Regions from separate parts of the Homo sapiens genome. Here all the other regions are reported to be linked to region 2. Evidence: microRNA targets listed by miRTarBase, many of them from high-throughput screens and not tested one by one. Region 2 holds a microRNA gene; each other region holds the end of a gene's coding sequence.

Region 1 (3,145 bases), not on the chromosome of region 2:
TAGGCTTGGTGCCTGGTTTGGGCTGAGAAAAGGGATTTGGATCTTTTGAGCTGGTCTCTCCAAAGGAGTCAAAGAACCAGGGAGAAATAGTCTAAGTGTAGAACAAGGTGAGCAAGATGGGAGAGGGTGGCCGTCTACTTCGGCGGGTTGGGGCAAACACCAGAGGGAGAAAGACATTAACGGCCTCTCAAAGCAGTGGTCCTCCTCTGGGCTGTGAACTCTTTGAAGCTATGCAAGGTAAGGATGGGTCCACAGTTTTCATCATTCTCAAGTCTATGACCCAAATATGTTGCAAGACCTGGGAATAAATCTGGACAAAGAGGCAAATGGGAAAATTGGACTGTCTTTTGGGGGTGAGGTAGAAGAGTTCCTCAGTTAGTTGCCCTGTGTTAAGCCCGTACCATCTTGCCAGACACTTGTCACTCATTTCACCATCACCACAACCCAAGAACTTTATAATATTTCTATTTTATGGGTGAGAAGCTTAAGGCTCATGAAAGTAGGTTTCTTGCCTATATCACATAATGAGGAAGTGACGGGCTAAGAGGACGAGCCCAAGACTGTAAGACTCAGCCTTTTCCCCGTATCCTGCCTCACAATGTAGTTTATCTTTTAGGTTTTGTTTTGAAGTCTCGCTCTGTCACCCAGGCTGGAGTGCAGTGGCACAATCTTGGCTCACTGCAACCTCCACCTCCCAGGTTCAAGCGTTTCTGCCTCAGCCTCCTGAGTAGCTGGGATTATAGGCGTGTGCCACCACACTCAGCTAATTTTTATATTTTTAGTAGAGACAGGGTTTCACCATGTTGGCCAGGCTGGTCTCAAACTCCTGACCTCAAGTGATCCATCCACTTCAGCCTCCCAAAGTGCTGGGATTACAGGTGTGAGCCACTGTATCCGGCCATGTTTTGAAGTATCTTAACTTTTGATTCTTAAAAGGCAATAGCAGTAATTAGGATAATAAAGATACAGTCTGGCCAGGCACGGTGGCTCACACCTGTAATCCCAGCACTTTGGGAGGTCGAGGCAGGTGGATCACGAGGTCAAGAGATCAAGACCATCCTGGCCAACATGGTGAAACTCCGTCTCTACTAAAAAAAAAAATAAAAATACAAAAATTAGCTGGGTGTGTTGGTATGCGCCTGTAGTCCCAGCTATTTGGGAGGCTGAGGCAGGAGAATCACTTGAGCCCGGGAAGCGGAGGTTGCAGTAAGCTGAGATTGCGCCACTAAACTCCAGCCTGGTGACAGAGCAAGACTCCCATCTCAAAAAAAAAAAAAAAAAAACACAGTCTGACCCAGAATCAAAGTTGCTGCTAGCAGGAAGAGTCCTTAGAAGAGTTTCTAAAAACGGATCTCAGATCCCATAGCATATACTGTACTGACTGAGCTATGACAACTCATCATATTCCACATACCTGCTACCACAGGTGAGATCCATGTCCCGAAGCTTAGAGAGAAGCCTCTCTAAGGAACTAGAGGCATAAAACTGCCAACCACACCTACCCCCACCATCTCTCGGTGGGCGAAGGGAAAATGGTATCTTTAATACCAAAAAGATAATTTAAAGGCTTTAGATCAGGGGTAAACTTTATTCATAAAGGGCCAGAGTAAATCTTTGAGGCTTTATGAACCACATATGGTTGAAAACATTGTTGGCCTCCTGGCACAGAAACAGAAAACTGCTGTGGAGGCTAAGAGATCACCTCATCCGTTTTATAGCTGATATCCCCTCAGGCTAAGGCCTGCCTTAGGAGGAAAGGCAGTAGAGCAAGCTTGTCCAACCGCAGTCCTGGGCAGCAAGCAGCCCAGGATGGCTTTGAATCCGACCCAACAAAAATTTGTAAACTTTCTAAAACGCTGAGGGTTTTTTTTGCCATTTTTTAAAGCTTATCAGCTATTGTAATGTTAGCGTATTTTATGTGTGGCCCAGGGAAGCTAAAAGATTGGACACCCCTGCAATAGAGCATAGTTTTAAGAGCATCACTTTAGTGCAAGACTCCACCATTCACTGCTGTATAATTTCTGGCAAATTACTTAATCTCTCTGTGCCCATTTCCTCATCTGCCAAATGAGGATACGTTAAAGGTGCTTGTGAGGTTTAACAGTTCATTTGTGTAGCTAAGAAGAGTATTTGAGGCCCAGAGCACCATGGCTTACGCCTGTAATCCCAGCACTTTGGGAGGCTGAGGCGCACAGATCATCTGAGGTCAGGAGTTCCAGACCAGCCTGGCCAACATGGTGAAACCTGTCTCTACTAAAAATACAAAAAATTAGCCAGGTGTGGTGTCCTGCACCTGTAATCCCAGCTACTCGGAGGCTGAGACAGGAGAATCGTTTGAACCCAGGAGGCACAGATGGCAGTGAGCCGAGATCACACCACTGCACTCCAGCCTGGGTGAGAGAGCAAGACTCCATCTCAAAAAATAAAAAATAAAAGCGTCCCTGACACATACTAATTACAATATAGTTAGTAGACTTTATTGTTGCTATGGGAGCAGAGGGCCAAGAACCAGCACTCGCCATAGCCCATGTCACCCACAAATGGTTAGATGCAGGAGTACCTGCAGCTACTTTCTTGTAGATAATGGAACAAAGGGGGAGCCCTGCTCTTTCACCAAAACCCGAGACCAGGCAAAACTTCAAGACTCATGCTGAGGAGGGGCGCTTCATGAACTTGAATATTAGTGGTCACACAGGATTCTACTCACAAAAATGTAATATCACAACAGTGCAGACCATAGGAAGTTTATTGTGTCTTTGAGACACTACAATGCAGACTCCTCTTCCAGAGAAAGGTCTTTCAGAGACAGGGAACCGTCATCCGGATGCGTTGCTCATTTGTCATTTTCATAGGCAGCTGGATTCTTCCTCTTGGATCTCTCGAACTCTTCAGTCCCCCATGTGTAGATAAGATAAAACACTACAAACTCTTTAAAAATTAAGAGAGTAAACAGAGAGCACACATATAAGACATATAGAAGAAAAAAAAAGGTCTCAGTCCTCTTGTCTTCTTTAAAGCATACACTTCAGTAGTTCTTAGCATATCCAAGGCCATGCAACTATCATCACTATCTGCTGCACGTTTAACACAAAGCATTTCACCACTGGTAAGAACTAAATAAAGGTGACCTCAGAGGAACATGCTG
Region 2 (3,148 bases):
TGTTTTGTTTTACAGCCAGGCTGTTCCCTGTGCTCTGACCTCCCCTTGGAGTTCCCATCTGCCTCCCTCTTTAGCAACCGCACAGGCTGTGTGAGCCCATCAGCTTGGCATCACATGACTGAGAGCCAGCCTCCTGAGTGCTCCCTGAGGGTCTGTGCCTTAGATCAGCCCTCTTCTTGTCCCCCAGTGCTGTGGACCATAACTGTCTGTTTTTCTATTTAAGCTTCTGGCCAATAGGACATGAGCTGGCCTCATGGCTCCACCCTGAAGCCATTTCTCCTTGTTGGTTTTGTTACCACCTTACCCATTTCTCAACTCTGATCAGAGTTTATTTATTTGTTTGGTTTGTGTTGTTTTTCTGAGTTACATGATAGCCTTTACTTAGGTTGGAAGTTTTTAAAAAAATTCTGCACCCTGGCCCTGTTCCCTAGTGACTATCACCTATCAGAGGAAGGAGCTGACACCACTTCTAGATACAGAAGGAAATCCCTGTGGCTCCTCCCTTTCAGTTCTTTCAGAGAAGATTCCTGAAAGGCCTTCCCACCTCCCCATCTTGAAACTCCCCCATATCTCCACCTCCACAAAGACAAAGGGAGAGATTTGGAGAGAAACAATAGCTTTATAATAGACCAATAGGCTTGGGCTTTCTTTTATTTCTGTGTTGTGTTCTTTTATGTTATTTGCTTGTTTGGGAGGGGTTGTGTTTAAGTTTAACTCTTGTAGCACAGGCCAGCTGGATTTAGGATGGACTCTAGCTTCTGTGTACCAAAGTCGTCCTGTTGAGGGGTTTGGGAAGATACTCCCCAGTCATCAAACACAGTCCCTCAGAGCAAGTCACGTTGTCATTTACCTGCATTTGCAGAGCTCCCTAGGGCCGTGACTGAGACCTGTCCTTCCTGTCTTTTTCAGATTGTGGGCTGCACACTGCAGGAAGATTCAGCTGAAGAAAGGTAAGTTCTACCAGGGCATTCTTCAGCAGTTCAGCTGGAGGCCTCACTCTGTGGTCATCACCCTACCCCACCTCCAGCTGCACTTGTTGACCCTGTGCCACTTCCGCAGATTGCAGAATTCTCTGCAGCAACTGAGAACAGCTGAGCCTCTCACTGCAACTGAGAAGACCTCTTAGGAGGTAACATTAAGGGCCTTGTGGTCTGTGATTTTTCTTTTTTTTGAGATGGAGCCTCGCTCTGTCACCCAGGCTGGAGTGCAGTGGCACAATCTTGGCTCACTGCAACCTCCGCCTCCCGGGTTCAAGCAATTCTCCTGCCTCAGCTTCCCAAGTAGCTGGGATTACAGGCATGTACCACCATGCCTGGCTAATTTTTGTATTTTTAGTAGAGACGGGGTTTCACCATGTTGGCCAGGCTGGTCTCGAACTCCTGACCTCAAATGATCCACCTGCCTCGGCCTCGCAAAGTGCTGGGATTACAGGCGTGAGCCACTGTGCCTGGCCAGTATGTGACTTTTCTAGTGTGCCATTTGCTAGGTTCCAGACCTCATTTAATGTTTAGAATAGCTTCCCTGTTGTCCCAGACCATCTCCACACCCTCCCCACAAAGCAGATCACCCCACTGCAGCTTATGAACAACGGTCATCCCTGTCTTCTCACTTCAGGTGCTAAATGTGTGTCCAAGGAGATTGTTAGGACCAGCCTCCTCTGAATCAGGGCAGCTGGACACTTGGGAGGGAAGACAGCTGGAGAGTATGGTCACAGCAGCATCCTCCTCTGTTTTCTTTCCTAGATAACTCTTCCACACAAGTGTACAACTACCAACCCTGCGACCACCCAGACCGCCCCTGTGACAGCACCTGCCCCTGCATCATGACTCAGAATTTCTGTGAGAAGTTCTGCCAGTGCAACCCAGACTGTAAGTGTGCTACGTTTTCTGTATAGTCTACCAAAACAGTTGGCTCCAGTGTGCCCTAGGCTTGCCCCATTCCTGTGCCCTTTACTGCTTATGGCCTTCTGATATCCCCTTTGCTGTGTTTTAGGGATTCTACAAATGAAATAAGTGCATGAGATCTGGGAGAGTCGTTTCTGGAAAACGTTTAGGTTCATGATTCTAAAAGCAGCAATTACACAGAAATCAGATACTTTCCCAACTTTGTCTTCTAGGGGAGAATTAAGAAATGTGGGGGGCAGCAGGCGCAGTCACTCACGCCTGTAATCCCAGCACTTTGGGTAGGCGGATCACTTGAGGTCAGGAGTTCAAGACCAGCGTGGCCAACTTGGCGAAACCTCATCTCTACTAAAAATAAAAAAATTAGGCCAGGTGTGGTGGCTCACGCCTATAATCCCAGCACTTGGAAGGCCAAGTCGGGCAGATCACTTAAGGTCAGGACTCAAGACCAGCCTGGCCAACATGGTGAACCCCGTCTCTACTAAGAATACAAAAATTAGCCAGACATGGTGGTACATGCTTGTAGTCCCAGCTACTTGGGAGGCTGAGGCACAAGAACTGCTTGAACCCAGAGGGCAGAGGCTGCCAGTGAGCCAAGATTGTGCCACTGCACTCCAGCCTGGGCAACAGAGCAAGACTCTGTCTCAAAAAGAAAAGAAATGTGGGACTCTTTTTTTTTTTTTTAAGTTACAGCCCCAGTTTCCCTTTTCTGAATACTGTTTTAAAAAATTTTTTATTCAGATATTTTTTGTTTGTGATTCTGTGTATGTCTATTTTCATTTCATAGCTGGAGTTTTAATATCAGGTAGAAGACAGGGGCCTGGATGTCAGCAGAGACATCCGGGTACTTATCTTTTACTTCTTATCCCACCATGCCCTTCCCAACTCAAAGCTGAGCAGTTTGATGGCAGTCCCCACAGCTTGCAGAACTTGGTGCCCAGGCGGTTTTGCTGGAGGAAATACCTCCTAACCCATAGCAGATAGTGATCTTAGCCGCAGCAGAGAAGTGGTTGCGCTGGGTTGGGCAGTGGGTGGAGAAGGATGGCATAGAACGGATGCATTCTGTTCTCAAAATGATACTTGTTTTGATGGTGACAATTTACCAGTGAAACACACTGATTTCATATTCTCTGGGGTACTCTCCACCTCAGTGGGAGGGAGAGGATTGTTGGGGAATCTCTAGGGGACACTTCTTATTAGTATACCTGCTTTTTTTTTCATTTTTTAAATTTTTTTGAGACAGGATC
Region 3 (3,148 bases), not on the chromosome of region 2:
AGTTTTTAAATTTGTAATACTTTTCTTCTTAGAAGGTTTCTTAGGAAGTAAAGCAATGGAAAATACATCTCATTGTTAAATTATGGTGCTTTGAACAATGTTGTGTTCTTTGCTTTCATTCTCAGAAAACATCCAGTACAGACCTTTCTGATATCCCTGCTCTCCCTGCAAATCCTATTCCTGTTATCAAGAATTCAATAAAACTGAGATTGAATCGGTAAAAACAACCTCAGGGGTCCATAAACAATATCTGCCAACTCAACCTGTTGTCTTCAAATGCTAAAAAAGGAGAATGGAGGGTACAAGACTAGACATGACTGAAATGGATTTGGGTTTTTTGGTGACCTCCCTTACTGGGCTAATCAGCACTTGATCGGAAGTCCAGGTTAGTATGTGAAGCCAGGAGTACTATTATTATTGTGTTAGCAACAGTTGCATTAACTATTTCAAAAATTACTGCCTTTAAAAAAAACAACCTCAAGCTATATTTGTATTCATAATTGACATCTGGATTGGGTTTATGTTTGATGCATTGTTTGGAAAATTTGCAATACAAACTGGCATAAGAATTACTTATTCTGATGATGCACTTTTATGTATTTTTCATTAGAAAGTAGAACTAATTTTAGATTTTCAGCTTGATGGATTTTCAGTTTTTCCTGAAGAATTTTCTTTACCATTAGTCTTCAAATTGGATACTGTTGTGCAGTGGTGTACTGTTATACTTCAGAGAAAGGGTAAGAGTACATCTAGTTCAGTTCCTATGAGGTAGCTGTAACCCTTAAAAATGAAACGTCAACTCTAGGGTACATTTGACATTGAAAGAATAGTTAGGAAATAACTTGGTTTTGATAGGGTCATGATTAAGAAATGATATATTGGTTTTATTTATGGAATTGTTTTATAGTGCATACAAATCAGCGATCAGCCAGCAAATATTTTTCTTTGAGCTTGTGAAAGCTCTGTGTTCTTTTGCCTTCAATCTGTTGTCTTCAAAACAAACAAACAAAAAAAGCTTCTTGCGCCTTTCCCTCCCCTGTTTTCTTCCTTTTTCTTTTTGCTTGTATGCACAAGGTAGGACTTACTTCGTAAGAAACAAAATGCCAGTATTTTCTTAAGCCATGATGTGAAACCAATGACCCTGTGACCACATGGCACAGAACACTAAATTTTGGTCCCATGGCTGAAACTTGAGGGTGACTAAAAGTAATGCCTGTGAAACATGATATCTATCTGGGATGGCCATTTGATCTCTAAAAGGAATTTTGTACACTCCACAGAACTCCTATCTATAGTAAAATTGATTTTCAGTTTTAAATGTGGGCAAAAAGGCATTTTCTCCAAGATTTTAAAACTAATTCTTATTTTTAAATGGTTTACCAAAATTTGTCAGTACATTTTACGTGTAGAAGCATTTTAAAAATCATTTCTAGCAAGCACTTGACATCTAGTCAGCTCTCTACTCCTTTATTTTGTTTTATCAAAAGATTAAGAGCTCCTTTCTTTGAATAAAATAATTTCTCATAATTAAGCAGTAGAAGATCTATCTTCACAAAGTATGAGGGATGCCAGATGTTGATAAACTTACTCTTTCTGAATCTGGACAAAGTCGACTTAACAGATTTTTCTGATGAGCATGTTTTATGAATCCTCCATTGTGCTCCATTCTATCACATGTGCATTTTTCATGTTAAACTGCAATTACTTAATCTCTTCCCCTATCCTTCTAAATTAATTTTCTGAAGTTGGAGTGTAGTCTTTTCCCCCTTAGGCTATGCATTAATCGAAGCTTTCTTTTCACCATGACTTTATAATGTCTAGTAAACAATATTTCTACTTCCCACATCTTTGCTTTACACAGTCACCTTGCCCTTCCTTCCACCACCGAAGAAAAAAGATGGTCATACTAACAGGTGAAATGTACAAGGTGTCTGTGTGTTTTGTGTAGCTTCAGAGTTAGATTGAAATTACCAGGCACAGATTTAGTCTTGTCATTTTGTTTACACATTGGGGAAAACAATTCAGTTTATTAAACGTTTCATGTAACTGCACCCAAGTTTTGCCAAGCTGGAAACTTGGACCTTTTCTGTGTAGTGACTTTTTAATTATAGTTTTCATAACCTGGAGATCAGACTGTTGCTTTCGCATGATGTATGTAGTGTCTCATGACTGGAGTTTGCTTTGTTTTATAGTATCTGTACTCCTTGTATTTTTCAAGAGCTATTTTGTAAACAGATGATGTATTTCTCCATTGAAAACACAATAAAAAAAAAACAGCACAATCTCACAGTTGCCTGATTTCTTTTGACTACTACTTTTTTCCAGTAATCATAAGTTTATAGTATGATTCTAAGTGAGGATTTGCAAAAGAATTTGGTTACATTAGAAAAGATTTGTTTCTGGTTAACTTCAGCCATTGGCAGCAGCCTTGTATTTATAGCTCAGATAATAATTAGGTGTTTGTTTTTCATATAATTGATCTTTAGGGAGGAAAACATTAATATAGTTACTATTAATTCAATTTTAGCTCTTCCGTCCTCTAAAGTGTTCTGTGTCTGTAGACACCATACGTTATCTGTATATTTATTCTATGCCTGTGGACAGTGTACTGTCCTTTTCAAAGCATTTAGCACTTTAATGTCAGCAGGTGGCACTGTTGTTTTTCAGTGAATTTAGAATTACAGACCACAACCAACAGGATTCTATGTTTCTTATTTTACTAAATGCAAATCAGATATTGCTTTTCTTAACCCCCCAGATGCTCAGCATTGATACTTAACTCATGGTGCAGGAGCGAGCTGCTCTGTGTATTTTGTGATGGTCAGCTCTTGGGTATGGTTATCTTGTGTTTTGGGTGGAGGGATGGACTCTTTGTGTCAAAGCCATTATTCTGAGGGACATGCAGTTGTTCATATATCATTTCTAAAATTCTAATGTAACCTTCCCTATATATGAAAATGGGAATGTGGCTGCATTGTGGGATAACTTTTTAGTAAAAGCAAAATTTAACTTCTGAGACTGTTCAGTAAAAGGGAAAATATTGTAGGAATTACCCTTATCTCCCTTGTTAACACTAAAAGAATTGAACTGGCTGTACTTCCTCTACTTTGATAGTCATCTAGATGCAGTTTGTATATCACAGTTTCTG
Region 4 (3,148 bases), not on the chromosome of region 2:
AGCAGTACTGATCATGTTTGTATAGAGCTTAATGTAGCCTGCTGAAACTTTGAAGATTAATTTGAGTCTTTCTCTACACAGAGTGAAAAGAAGATAAAGACAACAGTACTAACAGCTGCACTTCTATTGTCGGGAATTCCTGCCGAAGTGATAAATCGATCAATGGATACCTATAGCAAAATGGGCGAAGTCTTCACAGATCTCTGTGTCTACTTTTTCACTTTTATCTTTTGTCATGAACTGCTTGATTATTGGGGCTCTGAAGTACCATGAAGCCTGTAGAACTGAGAAGGAGAAGCTTACAAAAAAAAAAAAATCCTCTTCTATATTGCAGTGTCTCTAAAGGAGGCAAATTGGTTTACACCTTCATGTAATTCTTTTACTTTAGGGGTTGTAAAGCTACTTTATTAGATATAGAATGGCAGATTCTCTGATTTAAAAGGGCTGAGTTTGTATTATTACTGATATGAAGAATAGAGTACCAATGTCATTAATTGATTTTTCTTGTTAATCAGAATTCCTATTCTGTACCTTTCCTCTAACTTCTCAGATTTGTAATTCTTCTTTTGGGAGCTGAGCTAGTGCTTTTAGGAGAACAGATAAATGTGGTCTCAGCCAGCCCTAGAGACTGCTTCTTGTGTTTGTGTCATTCTGTCCTGAGAAATGAAGTCATCTGAAAAATAAAATGAAAGAAACTGAATTGTCTAATGTTAACTCTGCACATTGTAACTTTTCTTGTTGAGTTAGTATCTTAATTTTTACTCCAGCACAAGTATTTAATCAAAGAAAAGATTCATACATGTGAAATTGGAAGGTATTTATAAAATTTTTATTGCTGTATACCAAACTCAGAATTGGAACTTTTTACATTTGAGTTTCACTTTTTAGAAGTATGTTTTAAGCAAGCAAAAACAAAATGGGATGTGAAGAATTGAGGCATGCAACCCAATAGCATAAATGTCCTTTTTCCCCCCAAATATGGTCTAGATGAGTTATTATAAACATTGTTTTTATTTTTTTGAGACAGAGTTTCGCTCTTGTTGCCCAGGCTAGAGTGCAATGGCGCCATCTCGGCTCACCGCAACCTCCACCTTCCTGGTTCAAGGGATTCTCCTGCCTCAGCCTCCCAAGTAGCTGGGATTACAGGCATGCACCACCACGCCCAGCTAATTTTTATATTCTTTAGTAAAGACAGGGTTTCTCCATGTTGGTCAGGCTGGTCTCGAACTTCTGACCTCAGGTGATCTGCCCACCTCGGCCTCCCAAAGTGCTGGGATTACAGGCGTGAGCCACTGCACCTGGCCTTATAAATATCCTTTTAACTAACTCAGTAACTGCCATATTTTGTTGGGTTGTCTTCTTAAAAGAATATAAGACTAAAGTGTTAATGTCACTTGGTGTTACATTTCCTTACAGATTTTTGTATAGTCTAATTTGGTTAATCCTTGTGACATTAAAAACACATACACTTTTTAAAAAATTACTCTTTAAGTCTTGATTTCTGTCATTTCATTTTGAACCAGGGTAATGAAGAATAATTTAAGTCTATTCTTCTGATTTGGGTGAAAGATTATAAGCACACATTTTTCCTGATTCCATAATGAATCTAGTATCTAAAGGGTTGTAAATCATCCTTAAAGTTGTCACTTCCTTAATCGCTGAGAAGATACTAGTGGTCTTCAATTGCACATTGCACATGTTTACTCTTTTGGTGCTTTTTTTTTTTTCCAAACAGTGTTTACCACTGTTGTCCAGGCTGGAGTGTAGTGGTAGCACAATCATGGCTCACTGGAGCCTTGATTGACCTCCTGGGCTCAAGCAATCCTCCTGTCTCAGCCTCCCAAGTAACTGGGACCATTAATGCCTGGCTAATTTTTTGATTTTTTGTAGAGACAGGATCTTACCATGTTACCCAGGCTGGTCTCAAACTGGGCTCAAGCAGTCCTCCTGCCTTGGCCTCCCAAAATGCTAGGATTACAGGTATGAGCCATTGTGCCTGGCCTACTTTTCTTTCTTAAAAAAAAAAAATCATTTAGCCAGCTGACACATGCAAAATTTTAGTAATTGTAGATCATTATCAAATTTATATTTTGAAGACAGTTATAAGATATCTGTATCTATTGGTGCCATTTTTTGTCTTTAACTGATAGGCATCTCCCTGATCATTTGCTTGATTTGTTGAATAATATCAAGTAGAAATGAAAGTTTTTTTTGTTTGTTTGTGTTGTTTTTTTTTTTTCTGAGACAGAGTTTCGTTCTTGTTGCCCAGGCTGGAGTGCAATGGCACAATCTCGGCTCACTGTAGCCTCTGCCTCTGGGGTTCAAGCAATTCTCCTGCCTCAGCCTCCCGAGTAGCTGAGTTTATAGGCATGCACTACCACGCCCAGCTAATTTTGTATTTTTAGTAGAGACGGGGTTTCTCCATGTTGGTCAGGCTGGTCTGGAACTCCAAAGCTCAGGTGATCCACCTGCCTCGGCCTCCCAAAGTGCTGGGATTACAGGTGTAAGCCACTGCGCCCGGCCTGTTTTGTTGTGTTTTGTTTGACAGTTTCACTCTGTTGCCCAGGCTGGAGTGCAGTGGCATGATGTACAACCTCTGCCTCTCAGGTTCAAGCAGTGCTCACGCCTCAGCCTCCTGAGTAGTGAGTAGCTGGGATTACAGGCATTGCCACCATGCCTGGCTAATTTTTGTATTTTTAGTAGAGATGGCGGTTTCACCATGTTGGCCAGGCAGGTCTCAAACTCCTGACCTCAAGTGATCTGCCTGTCTCAGCCTCCCAATTTGCTGAGATTAAAAGTGTGAGGCCGGGCGTGGTGGCTCACGCCTGTAATTCCAGCACTTTGGGAAGCCGAGGCGGGCAGATCATGAGGTCAGGAGATCGAGACCATCCTGGCTAACACGGTGAAACCCCGTCTCTACTAAAAATACAAAAAATTAGCCAGGCATGGTGGCAGGCACCTGTAGTCCCAGCTACTCGGGAGGCTGAGGCAGGAGAATGGCATGAACCTGGGAGGCGGAGCTTGCAGTGAGCCAAGATCGTGCCACTGCACTCCAGCCTGGGCGACAGAGCAAGTCTCTGTCTCAAAAAAAAAAAAAAGTGTGAGCCACTGCAGCCGACCTGAAAGTTTCTTTTTTTTGAGACAAGGT

What was found. Region 2 holds the annotated microRNA hsa-miR-6780a-5p (UUGGGAGGGAAGACAGCUGGAGA, at 1,680-1,702, shown strand). A microRNA usually pairs through its seed, bases 2 to 8, with sites in the 3' UTR of a target mRNA and lowers its output. Matches are read on the target gene's strand: a 7mer-m8 pairs with bases 2 to 8, a 7mer-A1 pairs with bases 2 to 7 and ends in A, and an 8mer does both.
Region 1: the mRNA of UQCRQ is a reported target of hsa-miR-6780a-5p. Seed matches in the 3' UTR shown: 8mer at 2,175-2,182.
Region 3: the mRNA of PAPOLA is a reported target of hsa-miR-6780a-5p. The part of its 3' UTR that is shown has no 7-base or 8-base seed match.
Region 4: miRTarBase lists CAMLG as a target of hsa-miR-6780a-5p. Seed matches in the 3' UTR shown: 8mer at 1,123-1,130 and 8mer at 1,259-1,266.

What each region holds. Positions count from the first base shown.
Region 1 is chr5:132,867,271-132,870,415 of GRCh38, reverse strand. It overlaps UQCRQ (ubiquinol-cytochrome c reductase complex III subunit VII), which reads right to left. Exons shown (of 3, transcript NM_014402.5): 3 at 1,569-2,928. The coding sequence ends at 2,834. Among named protein-coding and RNA genes, the nearest start is that of UQCRQ, 2.2 kb to the right of the region's middle.
Region 2 is chr17:42,706,678-42,709,825 of GRCh38, reverse strand. MIR6780A (microRNA 6780a) reads left to right here and starts at 1,675; the gene lies at 1,675-1,742. It overlaps EZH1 (enhancer of zeste 1 polycomb repressive complex 2 subunit), which reads left to right. Exons shown (of 21, transcript NM_001991.5): 14 at 910-950; 15 at 1,743-1,868.
Region 3 is chr14:96,564,830-96,567,977 of GRCh38, forward strand. PAPOLA (poly(A) polymerase alpha) reads left to right here. Exons shown (of 22, transcript NM_032632.5): 22 at 126-2,287. The coding sequence ends at 221. Among named protein-coding and RNA genes, the nearest start is that of PAPOLA, 64 kb to the left of the region's middle.
Region 4 is chr5:134,750,678-134,753,825 of GRCh38, forward strand. It overlaps CAMLG (calcium modulating ligand), which reads left to right. Exons shown (of 4, transcript NM_001745.4): 4 at 82-1,480. The coding sequence ends at 273. Among named protein-coding and RNA genes, the nearest start is that of DDX46, 6.5 kb to the right of the region's middle.